Regions from separate parts of the Homo sapiens genome. Here regions 2 and 3 are each reported to be linked to region 1. The links are microRNA targets in miRTarBase. Many come from high-throughput screens and were not tested one by one. Region 1 holds a microRNA gene; each other region holds the end of a gene's coding sequence.
What was found. The annotated mature microRNA hsa-miR-4423-3p reads AUAGGCACCAAAAAGCAACAA and lies in region 1 at 3,218-3,238, opposite strand. An mRNA with a match to its seed (bases 2 to 7 or 8) in the 3' UTR can be bound and repressed. Matches are read on the target gene's strand: a 7mer-m8 pairs with bases 2 to 8, a 7mer-A1 pairs with bases 2 to 7 and ends in A, and an 8mer does both.

Region 1 (5,225 bases):
TGGACTCAGGTCTGCCAGGACCTAAAGACCCCTGTCTTTTCACTACACTGTAGACCAGACCAAATGACTTAAGGTCAGAAGATCAGATCGACTCACAATGGGTGGTAGGGGAAAGGGTTGGAGCTGTGGGGATTGGAAGGAGGCATACCAGTTAATTCTATTTGCATTCACACCTGATATTCCTACATCTTCAGTACAGGTGGTTAGCATCCTCGCTTGAGGCTCAGCTGTGTTCTTTACTGGGATTCAGCATGCCTGGCCTTGTCTGCCAAATGGAAGTTCTGGGCCAAACAAAAGGACCTTAGCTTAAGGGGTTGAAGAGCCTCAGAGAAAACTCATCCCAGAGAAGGAAGAGACATCACTATGAGTTTGTCTGTTTCAAAGTCTTAGTGTCCAAGAGAGGTATCATGAATAATTAAACCACGCTGAGTGGTCTGAGATGAATCGTATCATCTTCTGTCCTTTCCTCTTTTCTTCCATAGGTACCAGACCTGCATGAGCTCTGAAGGCTCTGCCTTGCTTCTTGCACCTCTGCTACTGCCTTGGTGTTTGCTTCTCGCTGAACTTGAACTAACCCAGAAGCATTGTCCCAGCACCTTCCCCCACGTTACAGGCCATTAGGCAGCTCTAGCATTTTGAGAGAAGGGATCCCTGAGTGCCTGGTGGTTGTGGGCTTGAACATATGTGACTCCATCTTCATCCCAGTGGCCACTGGACACACTTGGGGGCACTCTGCAGAAGGCTAGCATACCTGAGAAGCAAGTGGGCCAAGGTCCCATGAAACCTGGGCTATGGCTGCTTATGTGTCCTCTCGGTGGCCACAGGTGATGAGACTCAGGAAAACTGAGGTTATAAACACACAATGAAAACACCACACCAGGTCTGGGAGCAGTAGCTCATGCCTGTAATCCCAGCACTTTGGGAAGCCGAGGCAGGTGGATCACTTGAGGTCAGGAGTTCAAGATCTGCCTGGCCAACATGTGAAACCCTGTCTCTGCTAAAAATACAAAAATTAGCTGGGAATAGTGGCACATGCCTGTAATACCAGCTACTCAGGAGGCTGAGGCAGGGGAATCACTTGAACCTGGGAGGTAGAGGTTGCAGTGAGCCAACAACGAGCCACTGCACTCCAGCCTGGGCAACAGAGTGAGACTCTATCTCAAAAAAAAAAAAAAAAAAGAAAAAAGAAAAAGAATAAAGACAAAAATCACACTGAACTAATAATAACTGCTATCATAACCATAAGGAGCCCCATGTTTAGTTTCTATAGCAAGAATGTTACAACCATTTTGTATTTGTAAATCAGGCAAAACATATTTACTGCTTGCCGTATGCTAGCCACTATACTAAGCTTTATATTTGCTAACCCTAAGGCAGACACTTATTCAATATCCATTACTCCAGTCCTTTATGCTAACAACACCCTGCTTTTATTTGAGACAACAATGTGCTCAGCCTCCAGTCATGGTTTATGACACTCAGTTATGACACACCTGTTCTCTGTAGTCCCAGCTTCTTTTCATTGAAGAGAGGGAGACTGGGTTATGGAACACACTTCTAGAAGACTACAGGTGAAACCCCTCACCTCTTTCAGGCCTTGTTCAAGTGTCACCTTCCCTGACCATCCTGTTTAAAATGGTAGACCCTGGCACATAGAAGGCATTCAATATATTTTTTTAAAGTCAGGTGTGGTGGTATGTGTCTGTAGTCCTAGCTACTCAGGAGCCTGAGGCAAGAGGATTGCTTAAGCCCAACAGCTTGAGGCTGCAGTGAGCTATGATTGCATCACTGCACTCCAGCCTGTGCAACTGAGTGAGGCCCTGTCTTTAAAAACAAACAAACCATTTTTTAGAGTGAACTCGTGAAAATAAAATTAGAAAAATCTCTGGAGAAAGTACTGAACAGCAAGCACAGATGCCCAGGGAGAGGAAGATGCCTGGCATGTTTGGTGAACAGGAGGCCAGCATGACTGGGATGGGTGTGATGGAGGGGAGAGGAAGGAGGGATGGGACCAGGTGACAGTGGAAGGCCTGCCTGTACAAGGGCTTGCAGGGCACAGACAGGCATTGGGAACATACTCTGAGTGATCATACTATGAGGTTGAGGAAGGATTCTGGGCAGAAGGATGACAGCATCTGACAGCATCCATTTAAAACTACCATCTGGCTGTGGCTGAAAGTGACTGAAAATGACAACATAGAAACAGGGAGAACAGGAGGCTGCTGCAAAATCCAAGCTGATGATGATGCAGCTTGGACCATGGTGGTAGCAGTGAGGGAGAAGAGAAGCGATCAGGTTTCACATGCATACTGAACGTGTAGTCAACAGGACTTGCTGACAGATTGGATGTGGATTGTGAAAGAAAGGAGATGAAGGATGACCTTAAGGCTTTTGCCCCAAGCAGCATCATGGCTGGGAGGACTGCTGGAGGAATGGTTTTTGAAGGGAAACATCAAGCACTCAATTTTGGACATGTTTAAGTTTGAGATGCCTATTAAACATCCAAGTGGAGATACAAAAGGTCAAATAGATACACATCTCTTGATTTTAGAGAGAAGGCCAGGTCAGGGACAGAGGTAGTATCTAAAGCCTTGAGAGTGGATGCATGCACCTAGAAAGTGAGTGCAGAAAAAAGAAAGAATAAAAGAAGTTCAAGTGTAAGGATGAGCCCTGGGATATTTCAATCATGATGACAATAATATGTGCCAGGCACAGGCCCCTTATCTGCAGGGGCTCATTTGCCCCTTACATAAATGCTGCAAGTTAAGTTCTCTCAACCTGACTTGATGGAAGGGGAATCTGTTTCACAGAGCTGGGTCATCTGTTCAAGGGCACACAGGTGGTTAAGAGCTAAAATCTATCCGACAAAGTTTTCTTTCCTCTAGCAATCTAACTTATAAACCTTGGTATTATCCTTTGTCTTCCCTTCCCCATCCAACCAGCCTTTGATTTCTATCTTCACATTAAGCTTTAGTACAGGGCATCCTAATCCTTTGCCCTGAACAATTCCTCCTGCCTCCTAATAGGATTTCTTGCCATGAGACTCTCCCCTGCTCTAGTTCATTCCTTGTTTCCTAAAAATAAAGCTGATTGGGTCAACTTCCTGTTTAGACCTTCCATTCATTCCCCATAAATTCTAATCCAGCTCCTTAGCTTGGTAAACAGGAGCCTTCACAATCTGGCTCCAAGCTCTTTTGTGTCTCAGTTTCACATACTGTTGTTGCTTTTTGGTGCCTATGCTAGGCTTAAACAGCATGGGAACAAAAAGGCAACTGCAGTACATGATGTCAGGCACCTGATGGTGTGAGCTGTGTCTTGTTCCACATCTCAGGGGAAAGCTTTCTGCTTGTCACCATGAAGTACCATGTTTGGTGTAGTATTGTTTTACACGCCCTTCATCACATTACAGGAATTCTTTCTGTAGATGCCAAGAATGTATCATTATTATCATGAATTGATGTCAACTTTTATGAAATGTTTTTCTGCATCGACTTGGCATCATAATTTCTCTCTTTTGATTAATCACTGATTTATTTTCTACTCTTAAATTAACCTTATCTTCCTTGGATAAACCCAACTTTGTCTTCATGTGTTAACCTCTTTAAAATATATATATATATATATTTCTGGATTTGATTTGCTAATATTTTGTTTAGCACATGGCCCTACAGTTTGTACAGTGGCCAAGGGGAAGCACTTTTTTTGGAAAGGTGGCCAAAAGCAAGCTGATAAGTAGGAGCAGTTTGATTTCCCCTTCTGCCTGGAATGAGGGCCTCTGTGTGGACAGCAAGGATTGGGATGGAAGGGACATCCAAAGTTCTCTATTATTATAGGAAAATACAAATTTTGTTATTGAAAACATTCATTAAAAAAGAACACTTTCATATTCAGTACAAAATTTGGTACATACATGGTACAAAAACTGAAATAGATCTCATTGCTAAAATTCAAAAGTTTTAATAGCAGGGAAATAAAAGTCTATAAATGAGCCTATATATATATATGTTCAGCATGCCAGTTCACCTGACATAAAAATAAATAGAGGGAAGAAGTCCCCAAAACACCCCTTCAGGAAGCTTTTTTACATCACCTCCATGTATGACCCCTTCTCTGTGACTTTGATTAGGCCAAGGTTGATAAGAACAGTCTTTTCCAGTTCCAGATAACTCTCATAGTCCATTTTTAATTCAGCCTGCATTTGTTCTTTTGACTTCTGATATGTTTTCTGGGGGGGGAAGAAAAACAAGACATCCCTATAAAACACTGATATCTAAAAATACCAAAGGATGAGAAGGGGCTGTTTGTGAATAGTTGACCTGGCTGCTGTTTTCTGGAAAGGGCTGGATGGAGGGCAGGAAGGCAGGAGGGCAGGTGGGCAGGAGGCAGTCAGATGTGCTGGGAAAGGAGGGAGTGGGGGGAAACATGGTCCCCAACCACTGTCTCTCAAAAAAAAGTCCCTTTTTCCGGCCTTCTTCCCTATAACTCTTGTTTCCCTTATGTAGACTGGAGGGTGACTAATAGCCTAGAGGTTGCAGAATTCTTTTGAAATCCCCCTCTTCTGAGTCCATATGGATGGCATAGCTTGTGGATCACACGGCAATGACTACTGTCCCAGGCTGAGTCTCCAGCTGAAATTCTGGTTAGGAAAATTCCCATTTCATATGCAACTAGAGCAGTGATTATTATTGTCCATTGAGGAGTGAGCTGTTTCCAGATTTTATGTTTGCAAAGAGACAGGTGCATGATTTTCCTGAAATCTGTGTTGAACTGTACAGCCTCAACCTGGCACCTGGTGAGCACTCACACAGGCCAGCCTTGCTGGACGAACATGTGAACACTTTCTATGTGCCAGTTATTGGCTAAGTGCTGTAAATATTTTAACTCATTTAAGCTCCATTGCAATCTTCTGAGGTTGTTACTGTTGCCATTTCCCCCTTTATCAGCCGTTGCTTAGAAGGAGACATTTCTGACTAACATTAGTTGTTTTTCCTTAGTGACTTTTTTTATGTTCTCAATGTAACAGAGGAACCCTTTCAAATTCATTCACATACCCACAATCTATTCATAGTTGCAGAGAAAATTTGAGAAGTGGTGGCTTTACTTAAAAGAGGGCACCATATCAAATGGAAATAAAGTTACAAGAAGTTGGGAACGTTTTGGAAATTGAAAAGTATAATACAATTTAAGATATTATTATTATAATATTCAGGTGTTTAAAAAGTATT
Region 2 (5,225 bases), not on the chromosome of region 1:
CCATCCTTTCACCTCTCAAACAAGCAAGACACCAGTCCCTGCAGCTGTGTATTATCTTCTCCTTTTTCCTTAAGGACTGAAGCTTCAATAGGAGTTCCAGGCATTAAGATGGATGGTGGAGATGCACAAGAACATGGTCATTTCCTTAGACTACCCCAGGTTAGGAGCACCCACTTTCTTTTTTCTTTTCTTTTTTTTTTTTTTTTTTTTTTTTTTTTTTGAGACAGAGTCTCACTCTGTTGCCCAAGCTGGAGTGCAGTGGCACAATCTCGGCTCACTGCAAGCTCCGCTTCCCAGGTTCACACAGTTCTTCTGATCAGCCTCCTGAGTAGCTGGGACTACGGGCGCTGGCCACCACGCCTGGCTAATTTTTTTTTTTTAAGTAGGGACAGAGTTTTGCCATGTTGGCCAGGCTGGTCTTTAACTCCTGACCTCGGGTGATCCACCCACCTCGGCCTCCCAAAGTGCTGGGATTACAGATGTGAGCCATCGTGCCCAGCCCACCCACTTTGTTAATCATGATCAGAGCAGGGGTGCCATTCTACCACCTTGGCACACCTGCCTAGAGGAGTGAGTGGCGCTGGGAGCAGACTGAGGAACATCTTAGCTGAGCAGTGAATCCAGCACTGTTCTAAGGAAGCTCAGATGGTCTGTGACTCATCCCTGTCCTCTGGACTGAATCTGAGGCCTTGGAACTCACCCAGGGTCTTAGTGGAGGCACAGCTCTGAGCTATGGGTGTAGAGCATCTGAACCCATCTACACATTGACCAAACACAGGCAGGTTCCAGTCTGCGGGGGAGATGGAGAAGGTGCCACCATGCTGCTGCACAAATCCCAGGATAGCTGGGGAATGAGAATCCAGCACTTTGGGCCTAGGACCTGGAAGGAGAGGTCTTTTGGGAGAGGTATGGGGACATCTGAAGGAGGACTTCTTGGAAGGGGAGGGGCTGGAGCAGAGGCAAGAGTGATTTTGTCAGATGGAGAGAAGGTTCTCCACATGGGCGGGGCTGGCAGAGGCAGATGCCCAGACAGGTCACAACTCTCTAGGTGCCCAATTACCTGCCCTCGGTGAGCTCAGCCATCGGCGGGGAGGTGCCCCAGCGCTACGTGTGGCGTTTCTGCATCGGCCTGCACTCGGCGCCTCGCTTCTTGGTGGCCTTCGCCTACTGGAACCACTACCTCAGCTGCACCTCCCCGTGTTCCTGCTATCGCCCGCTCTGCCGCCTCAACTTCGGCCTCAATGTCGTGGAGAACCTCGCGTTGCTAGTGCTCACTTATGTCTCCTCCTCCGAGGACTTCAGTGGGTGCCTGGATGAGGGAGGAGTGGGGAAGTGTTCCCTGAGGGGACGGGCCTGCCCCTACCACATTCGGACCTTCCTACTTCGTGGTGTGGGCACTCCCTGCAATGTGGCTCCCAATCCTCTTTCCCTCCAGCCATCCACGAAAATGCTTTCATTGTGTTCATTGCCTCATCCCTCGGGCACATGCTCCTCACCTGCATTCTCTGGCGGTTGACCAAGAAGCACACAGTAAGTCAGGAGGTACGGTCTATCCCTAGCGGGGGCTCCAAGGCAGCCCAGAAGAAAATCAAGGACATCTGTCCTCAGGATTCGGGTAATGGTGAGGTGGGAACTGAGTTCTAATGGGAACCCTGGCAGAGGGGTGCTGGGGTTGGGGCTGGGGCTTGGGAACAAACTGAGGGTGGTTGGTCAGAATCTAGGACTATAGCACTGTGTTTGGGTAGTGTGGGAGACTGGAGAATAGAAGAGATGGAGGCTGCAAATGGGGATAGAATGAGGAGTCGCATCTAGGCGGCAGTGAGTTAGGAACAGTGTCAGAGGACTGGTCTGTCATAATTCCAGCGCCCCACCCATGTACATGGGTTTCTTTTCCCCCACAGTATTTGGAGGTGGGGTTGGTGGGTGACTCCATGTAACTTTCATACTCCATCCCCCTGAAGTGGAAGCGGCAGGAATACCACTGCTCCTCGGCCCATCACTCCCCCAGAGGCAGGGACGTGAACACATAGTCGTCATTCTTGCTGCCCCTGCCTGTGCTCCCTTCCATGACCGCTAGTGGGAGCCAAGGGAGATAAGGCCCAGCCCTTAGGAGTTAGGGCTGAGAGGGGAGCCCACGCTCTCATACCCAGCAAGCTGCAGAGTGATCAGACAGCCCATTCCCTAGGATCGCAAGTCCTACAGCTGGAAACAGCGGCTCTTCATCATCAACTTCATCTCCTTCTTCTCGGCGCTGGCTGTCTACTTTCGGCACAACATGTATTGTGAGGCTGGAGGTGAGGCCAGGATAGGATCCACAGGCGGTCATGAGTGGCTGCGGGGCAGCAATGATGTTTTTGATAATGGGCAATGGTCTTGGGGACTGGCTGCCATTGTGTTCTCTGTGGCAGACCAATGGTGGTGTGATTTATCAAGAGGCCTCTGAGCGGGTAGCTGGAAGTTCACCATGTCCTGTTCCTTGTGTCCTCACAACAGTGTACACCATCTTTGCCATCCTGGAGTACACTGTTGTCTTAACCAACATGGCGTTCCACATGACGGCCTGGTGGGACTTCGGGAACAAGGAGCTGCTCATAACCTCTCAGCCTGAGGAAAAGCGATTCTGAACCCTTCAGTCCTGCTTGGGAGGACGCAGCCCACTGCCCAGAAACAAGAAACACGATACCATTCTGGCCTTCCCCACCCCACATCCTCTCTTGGCCTTACTGAAGATGGGGGAAGGGTAAGAAGGAAGGGTGTAGGCCAAGGCTCACCCCAGTGCTGCTGGCTTCTCCTCTCCACCCCTCATATGGGCGTGGGGTCCTCAAACATCACCTTTACCTGAGAGGCCCCAAGAAGCTGAGCTGGCAGAGAGCTCCACCATTTGGTGCTAAAAAAAAAAACGTCCTGAGGTTCATGACCACCATCCAGTTTCTGGCCTTTACACAGTCACCTTTCACTGAGGTCAGGAGCCCCTGAGCAGTGGCTGCTCCCTGACAACCACAGCCATTTCTCTGCACGGGGGTCATTCATAGGACTAATGTATTTCATGATCTACTGTGCACATCCAGGCCTGTGGCCACAGTCCCCTGCTAAAGTTGCTCAGGTGTTCTAGTCCTGACTTCACCTTTTTGATTTGGTGTGTGCCCTAGGGTATGTACCCTTCCCCATCTGAGCCTCGGTGTGTCCATGTGTCTGGCGGGGGATGGGTGGACTGTATGATTTCCAAGGACTCTACCAGTCAGTGGTTCTGATGTCATCGGGTGGAGGTGGTGTTCTATACCTAAAGGATGACCTGCTCCAGAAACAGCACCAGCACAGCATGTATTTTCTTCTCTTCTGAAAGTTCTGGCTTGTAGACCCCTCCCCTCCTTTGCAAAGGTATGGGATAGAGGGGTCAGATGCAGATCTCTACTGTAAAATGGGCTCCCTGGTATCTCCTGTCTTCCCTACTGCTCCAAACCCTAAATTTTGGTTGTACATTTTATTTGAAAGGAAAATAAATTTTTTTTTTGGGCCAACAGTTGCCTAGGCTTGCTAGTCTTGGGGCTCATCTTGTTTGATAGGAACTGGGAGAGAAACAGGCTCAAGAATGGGGAGGGAGTAAGTCCACGGCAGGGTATGATTCCTAGCAGAACCCCCCAGTCCCCCTTAGGTCTGGAGTCTCCTAAAGCTGGTCTAAGCCTTTATTTTGGTGAGCAGGAGTGAGTGAGCTATCTGTAATGATTCTAGGACTGCAAGCTAGGGTACCTGGAAGTCTTCAGTTGAGACAGAGACCTGGGTTCAAATTCCAACTCTTGTTGTTAAAGCTGTCCTCTTGGGGATGTGAGGTACAGCTGTCACATGCATGACTGTGGGAGCATCTGCCTTTAGACTAATGGCTCTGAACCTCTCCCTTTCTGAGCCCTAAGATCAAGAAGTCTTTCCTCAGGTTTTGTGTCTGAGTCCACTACAGCATCTGTGACTGGGCCCCAGAGCAAGACTGCCCCCTCCAAGGGAGCCTAGAGCTTTGTTAGGGAAATTGAGGGGTGAGGGGACCACAATGAAGCCTATTGTCTACTAGAAGAAACAAAAGGCTCCCAGTCTCTGGGGAGCCCTAGCCCATGCCCACCCGCTAATGCCCAGCACACAGGGAGGAGCCGGGGCCACTGGAGACAGGAGGTTTTATTGATGCTGATGGGGGTAGGAAAGGTCCCCAGAAGCATGGGGGCTGAGTCAGTCAGCAAATGCGTAAGGCCTAGGCACAGAGGAGCAGGTTAGGGCACATTCACCTTCTCAGGATTCTGTGGCTCCCTCATTGGAGAAGGGAGAGAGCATCTTGGGGGCGCAATTCCAAGAGCAGCGAGGGCAGAGGTTAGAGATGGCTGAGAGCCCCTAACCTGAGGCGGCACCACAATAGGCAGCAACAACTGTGTGGAAAGCTGGATGAACTGGTCAGTAGCGGAAAATGGGAGGGGGCACTGGGTTGGCCTCTTGGGGAGGGGTCCAACCTTGGCTTGGATGAGCTCATGAGAATACCCAGTGTTCCCAAGCAGAGGGGGGCAGAGCCCAAAGCCCCTTTCTCTGCAGGCCTCCTTAAGGAGAAAAAGGCACTCAGAGAAAAAGGCATTCAGGGAACCCCCTGGAAAGGGGTGCCAGAATTAGTCCTTAAGGCACAGCTGAGGCGGACAAGGCACCAAGGCACAACTGGTGGGGGGAGGGCAGGGGCAGCCTCCAAGCCAAGTGCCAGGGTCACAAGAGGATGCAGGACCGCCCACGCTTGATCGGCGTGGGGTTGAGCACAGCCCGGACAGCCTCGGCGAACACTTCCTTGACACCATCCTGTTGCAGGGCTGAGCATTCGAGGTAGCGCACAGCGTGGATCTGCTTGGCCAGTGCCTGGCCCTGCTGCGGTGTGATGGGCGCCTGGCCCTGCTCCTTGAGGCGCCGTAGGGTGTCAGGCTGGGCTCTCAGGTCCTTCTTGGTGCCCACCAGCAGGATGGGCACATCAGGGCAGTGGTGGCACACCTCTGGATGCCACTTGTGCCGCACGTTCTCATAGGACGGCGGACTGGCAATGGAGAAACAGATGACGAAAACGTTGGTCTGAGGGTAGGAGAGTGTACGGAGGCGGTCATACTCCTCCTGGCCCGCAGTGTCCCACAGGTTCAGGTTCACTGTGCGCCCGTCAACTGCGCTCTGCGCGCTGTAATTGTCGAACACGGTGGGGATGTACTCTTTGGGGAAAG
Region 3 (5,225 bases), not on the chromosome of region 1:
AGGAGAAAACTCCTTAACGTTCCCAAAGCACAAACTGAAAACCTACCGTACTTGTTCACATCTGGGTCCAGTGGGTCTGGCTGGTTTGCAGCTCTGTGATTTATTGTTAGTATCTCCTTTCTACCTGTGAAGGCTAGTCAGCGCTGTTTTCTCAGTTGTACAGCATTGGTTTGATCTATTTAGTCAGTCCTTTTGACTGACAGCTATTATGTCCTTAGGGCTGATAAGCTTTTGAGGAGTAGTTTTTCTTTATTCTCCATGTAATTGAGAGTGGACAGTAGCTTATTTTCAAAAGAACTTGTATTTCTTATCCCTTATGGAAAAATAAACTCTGGATTCAAAACAATAAACAGGTGATTCTGTTTTATGCTGATTTTTCTGTTTGACTAGCTTTCTGGATCATTTTACAATTTGTGGAACATTATGGCTCTATCTCTTTCTCAAATGCACAGGCCAGATAAACACTTACTGCCAGAACATCAAGGAGTTCACTGCCCAAAACTTAGGCAAGCTCTTCATGGCCCAGGCTCTTCAAGAATACAACAACTAAGAAAAGGAAGTTTCCAGAAAAGAAGTTAACATGAACTCTTGAAGTCACACCAGGGCAACTCTTGGAAGAAATATATTTGCATATTGAAAAGCACAGAGGATTTCTTTAGTGTCATTGCCGATTTTGGCTATAACAGTGTCTTTCTAGCCATAATAAAATAAAACAAAATCTTGACTGCTTGCTCATTTGATTTTAGATGTATTTTCTCTGGCTTACTTTTGTTTGCTTATACTTGTTTATTTCTAAAAGCTAAAACAAGCCCTGACCGGAAGTTTCACCAGGCAGAAACCTATAGGCTCCACCACTTTTGCTGCCTCTCAGGTGCCACCTTTCAACCCACTTCTCCCAACTACTTATCCCAGCTCCTGACCCCGAGGCCCTGGCATCTACTGTGAATATTTTTTTTTTGAATTTTTATACTTCGCTGCTCCCAAATGAGCACCCCGAGAGAAGTCCAGGCTTCATGTACTTGCCCAGGAATTCCTTGTCCCCGGACCCGGAATCACTTGGCCTAATTCCGGTCAGTCTGCCTTTTCATTTCTGCAGGTGATGGTCAACCAGTCCCCGTACTCATAGGCCATGGGACACAAGATTATTATTATCATCATTATTTTTAAAGACAGAGTCTCACTTTGTTGCCCAGGCTGGAGTGTAGTGGCACAATCTCAGCTCGCTGCAACCTCCACCTTCTGAGTTCAAGCGATTCTCCCACCTCAGCCTCCCAAGTAGCTGGGACTACAGGCGTGTGCCATCACGCCTGGCTAATTTTTGTATTTTTAGTAGAGATGGGGTTTCACCATGTTGGCCAGGCTGGTCTGCATCTCCTGACCTCAAGTGATTCACCTGCTTCTGTCTCCCAAAGTGCTGGGAATACAGGCATGAGCCACCACTCCTGGACAGGCCACAGAAATTTTAAAGAAAAGAATCATGCCACCACAAGTAAACTTCATTTTGTTTATATTATTTAGGACTTCACATTTGTCTTCCGAAACCATGAAGTATAATTCTGCTAACAGCAAGTGTTGTGAATGAGGAATTAGGAATTAGGAGAATGGTAGTACATTGGGAAAAACATATTTTAGTAATTTTTATATTTTAAAGATAATCACAGATTTTGCTGTTTGTGCATCACCAAAATCAGTGAGATCTGCCAGCTGGTGGGGGTGTGCCTATGAGAATTTTTGATTATGATCCCCTAGGAGGGTTATCAAAAAAGGAGATGGGTGAAAGATCAGGAGAGTCGAGAAATTCATTTTTTGGACAACATTGTTTTGAAGGCACTACTGGGGCTCTGGGATCAGGCAGCCAGATTGAAACCTGGCTCCTCCTTTTCCTAAGTTATTTAACCTCCCTGTGCCTCACTTTTTGTCAACCAGATAAGATAAGAAATGAGAGCAGGTCTGTTACCTCACAAGGTGGCTGTGAGTGTTGAAGACGTTTGTTGGGGGTTTGGGTGAAGCATGCAAACTCTGGTTGGTATGTGGCAGCCACTCAGCCTGTATTTATGATGAGGGAGGCATTCTAGGCACCCCTTCCAGGATGTTGGGTTGTTGGCTGGGTTTTACTTTAAAAAGCTCAGGGCCTAGAACATTCTAGAATCCAAGTACTTGCTCACATATATAATTATTTCTTTAGGATAATCTTTGATATAGACTTACGAGTCAAAGGGTATGTAAAATGTCAGCCCTTTTACCTGTATTGCCAAATTGCCTTCAAAAGTTTCTGCTGTTTTGCCCTCCTACCCATAGTGATAACCTTAAATTGGAGTCAACACAAATTTGAGTGTGACTGTGTTAGACAGAAGGGATATATTAACAGGTAAAACTGGCCATGGCCCCTGCCCTTGTGGAGTATATGCTCTGTTGGTTCATTTCCTCTGCATTCTAATTTTCTAGACTTGGGATCTTATTGTGGAGTTAAACAAAGCACCCTTAAAGTAGCAAGCGAGCAAAATAAAAGCAAGGAAAATCAGTTGGAACATAACTTATGTATTTTTTAGGATTAAGAGTAATTTAACTGAGTCAATTCAATATGTTTTTAAAGGTGTGATTCTTAAATTCTTTATGATTGTTTAGATTTCTATATCTTGGTAACATGAATACACACTTAATGAAAGATTTCAGTAATTTTTGATTTGGGAATTAATCATAGTGGGAAAAACTGTTTAGGAAAACATGTCAGTGGAAATTAACTCGCCACAGTATGTAGTGTTAGGGAATAGCTTCTGTTCGGCATTTGATTTGAGTGCTGTATTCTGACATTTTTCAGGAACAAATACATGTGATTCATCTTCTATAAATATTTGCAGTTTCTTCAAGTTGAAATGAGAAAAGCTCGTAAATTGAGCACCAGGTCTAATAAATCATTCACTTACCCAAGAACAGAAAGACAGGAAAAGCTAGCATGTTAATCTAATGAAAAAATCGAATGTTAAAAAACCAAGAAAGTAGAAGATATTTGACATTAACTTTCTAATCATTGATAATAATCTAATAATCATAACATTATTCTTAAAACCTGAAAGAATGGATTCCTGCTCCCAATGTGTTTTTAATATCAACTTAAACTAAAATAATTTTTTTACCTATTTTTGGAAGCTTGGAAATTGAGATGTAGTTGTCTAATGTTAACCTAATTAAGAGAGCTTGGTGTGATTTCTCATATACAGCATCTAAATATTTAAGTTTTAATGTCTTCTAAAATATTATTACATTCTTCATACTATAGTTTTTTAACATCCTTTAGAAAACTTGTATCAGCTTCACTTTCAAACCATGCTGGCATCGAACTCAGGTGTAGTGGTATCAGAATGTTATGAAATAATTTTTTATTTTCATTATAAACTCCATTTTTACAATAAACACTTCTCAACCAAATTAAGTATGTAATACACTGTCATTTTAAAAAAAAATCTCACTGGGCATCTTTTTCTATGCTAGCTCTGTATTTTTAAAAATTCTCTCTTTTTTTTTTCTAATTTAAGAAGTATTTATCAGATACCTACTATGTCAAGCACTCTTGATGTTCCAAAGCAGACAGGACACAGATTCTGCCTCTGAGCTTATTAATCAGCATATGACCCAAGAAGGGAACATGAAGTCCTACAAGCTGATAGAGTATGAAGTCATAAGTGCCTTGGAGAGTGCTTTGGGCCATGTTAACAGAGGATCCTTCTGCAATTGGGTTGTACAGAAGGGGTGACAGTGGTTAATAGTCATTGTGGTAAAAGGATAAAGATCTGAGTCTATTATTGAAAAGTGGTGACTCCCAAGTTGGAGTCAGAACCTCTTTGGATGGATTGGAAGAGGGGTTCATTTGACTCCAAATTACTGGAGACAGGGAGTGAGAAATAGGAAGCCAGAACTATTGGGAAATTACAGTTTGCTGGAGCAAACTGCTGTGGCCTAGTACTTACTGCCTTGAGACTTCATTTTATATAAATAGACACTTCCCTATAATGCACCTTGAGCCTGTTTGGCTCCACAGCTACTGGCAGAACCTGAAATGGCTTTGCATAAGCCTCAATGGTGATTTTAGGGATATAGTCCGGGTATGCAAGGAATGGTTTCCAAGTGCTATACCCCTGCTCCAATGTGGGGAGTTTGGGCCATTCTGTAGGAGTTCGGTGTTTCCCAGACATTTCTTTGTCTGAGTACTTGCATTCTTATTCTTACAGGCTGTTAAGCCCTCGCGTAGTTGCCATGTGATGAGTTTATTAAAGTCAAAATTTGATTTCTACACCATAGAATACCACTCTGCCATAAAAAAGAATGAAATAATGACTTTTACAACAACTCGGATGGATCTGGAGGCCATTATTCTAAGTGAAGCTGTGGGCACACAGAGTATAATGAACTTTGGAGACTCAGAAGGGAAGAGAGTAAGAGGGGCATGAGGGATAAAAACTGAATATTGGGTATAATGTACACTACTCAGGTGAAGGATGCACTAAGATGTCAGACTTCACTATACAGATTATCCATGTCACTAAAAACCCCTTGTACCCCCAAAAGCTATTGACATTTTTTTTTAAAGGCTAGCCTGGGTAGCATAGTGAAGACTCCATCTCTATACTTTTTTTTTTTTTTTTGAGAAAGAGTCTCACTCGGTCACCCAGGCTGGAGTGTAGTGGGCACAATTACCGCTCACTGCAGCCTCAACCTCCCGGGCTCAGGTGATCCACCTCTGCCTCCCGAATAGCTGGAACCCTAGGCACATACCATCACACCTGGCTAATTTTTTTTGTAGAAACGGAGTTTAGCCTTGTTGTCCTGGCTGGTTTGGCTCCTGTCTTGGCTTCCTAAGGAGCTGGGATTACAGATGTGAGCCACTGCACCTGTCCTTAAAAAATGTTTGATTCCATGAGATTAGATGTTGAGGCCATTTGCATTTTTTTATGAGTTAGGCAACCAATTTTCAATCTTCATTGACTCAATGGCAAGCAGTCTGCTACAGATTGAATACATCCTCAGAGTCTTACTAACTTGAGTATTCCCTGGAACCATCATGAGTTGAGAGGATAGGAGATGGAGTGCTGAATTCATGCTTATTCTAGGACTTGCTTGAAGTCTTTTTAATAGGATTCAGGTACATGTTTGCTTGCTTTTCCTGAGCATTCTCCACCCTCTCCACCCACCTAACCCCCAAAATAGGTCTCATTGTCTGATGTTGTCTT

Region 2: miRTarBase lists RHOG as a target of hsa-miR-4423-3p. Seed matches in the 3' UTR shown: 7mer-m8 at 4,236-4,242.
Region 3: the mRNA of EIF3H is a reported target of hsa-miR-4423-3p. Seed matches in the 3' UTR shown: 7mer-m8 at 1,716-1,722.

The regions. Positions count from the first base shown.
Region 1 is chr1:85,131,855-85,137,079 of GRCh38, reverse strand. MIR4423 (microRNA 4423) reads right to left here and starts at 3,286; the gene lies at 3,207-3,286. DNAI3 (dynein axonemal intermediate chain 3) reads right to left here. Exons shown (of 23, transcript NM_145172.5): 23 at 3,942-4,225. The coding sequence ends at 4,082.
Region 2 is chr11:3,822,835-3,828,059 of GRCh38, forward strand. It overlaps RHOG (ras homolog family member G), which reads right to left. Exons shown (of 2, transcript NM_001665.4): 2 at 4,144-5,225. The coding sequence ends at 4,729. PGAP2 (post-GPI attachment to proteins 2) reads left to right here. Exons shown (of 7, transcript NM_014489.4): 4 at 1,049-1,301; 5 at 1,436-1,542; 6 at 2,186-2,294; 7 at 2,494-3,537. The coding sequence ends at 2,624. Among named protein-coding and RNA genes, the nearest start is that of RHOG, 16 kb to the right of the region's middle.
Region 3 is chr8:116,640,331-116,645,555 of GRCh38, reverse strand. EIF3H (eukaryotic translation initiation factor 3 subunit H) reads left to right here. Exons shown (of 8, transcript NM_003756.3): 8 at 453-3,426. The coding sequence ends at 550. Among named protein-coding and RNA genes, the nearest start is that of EIF3H, 110 kb to the left of the region's middle.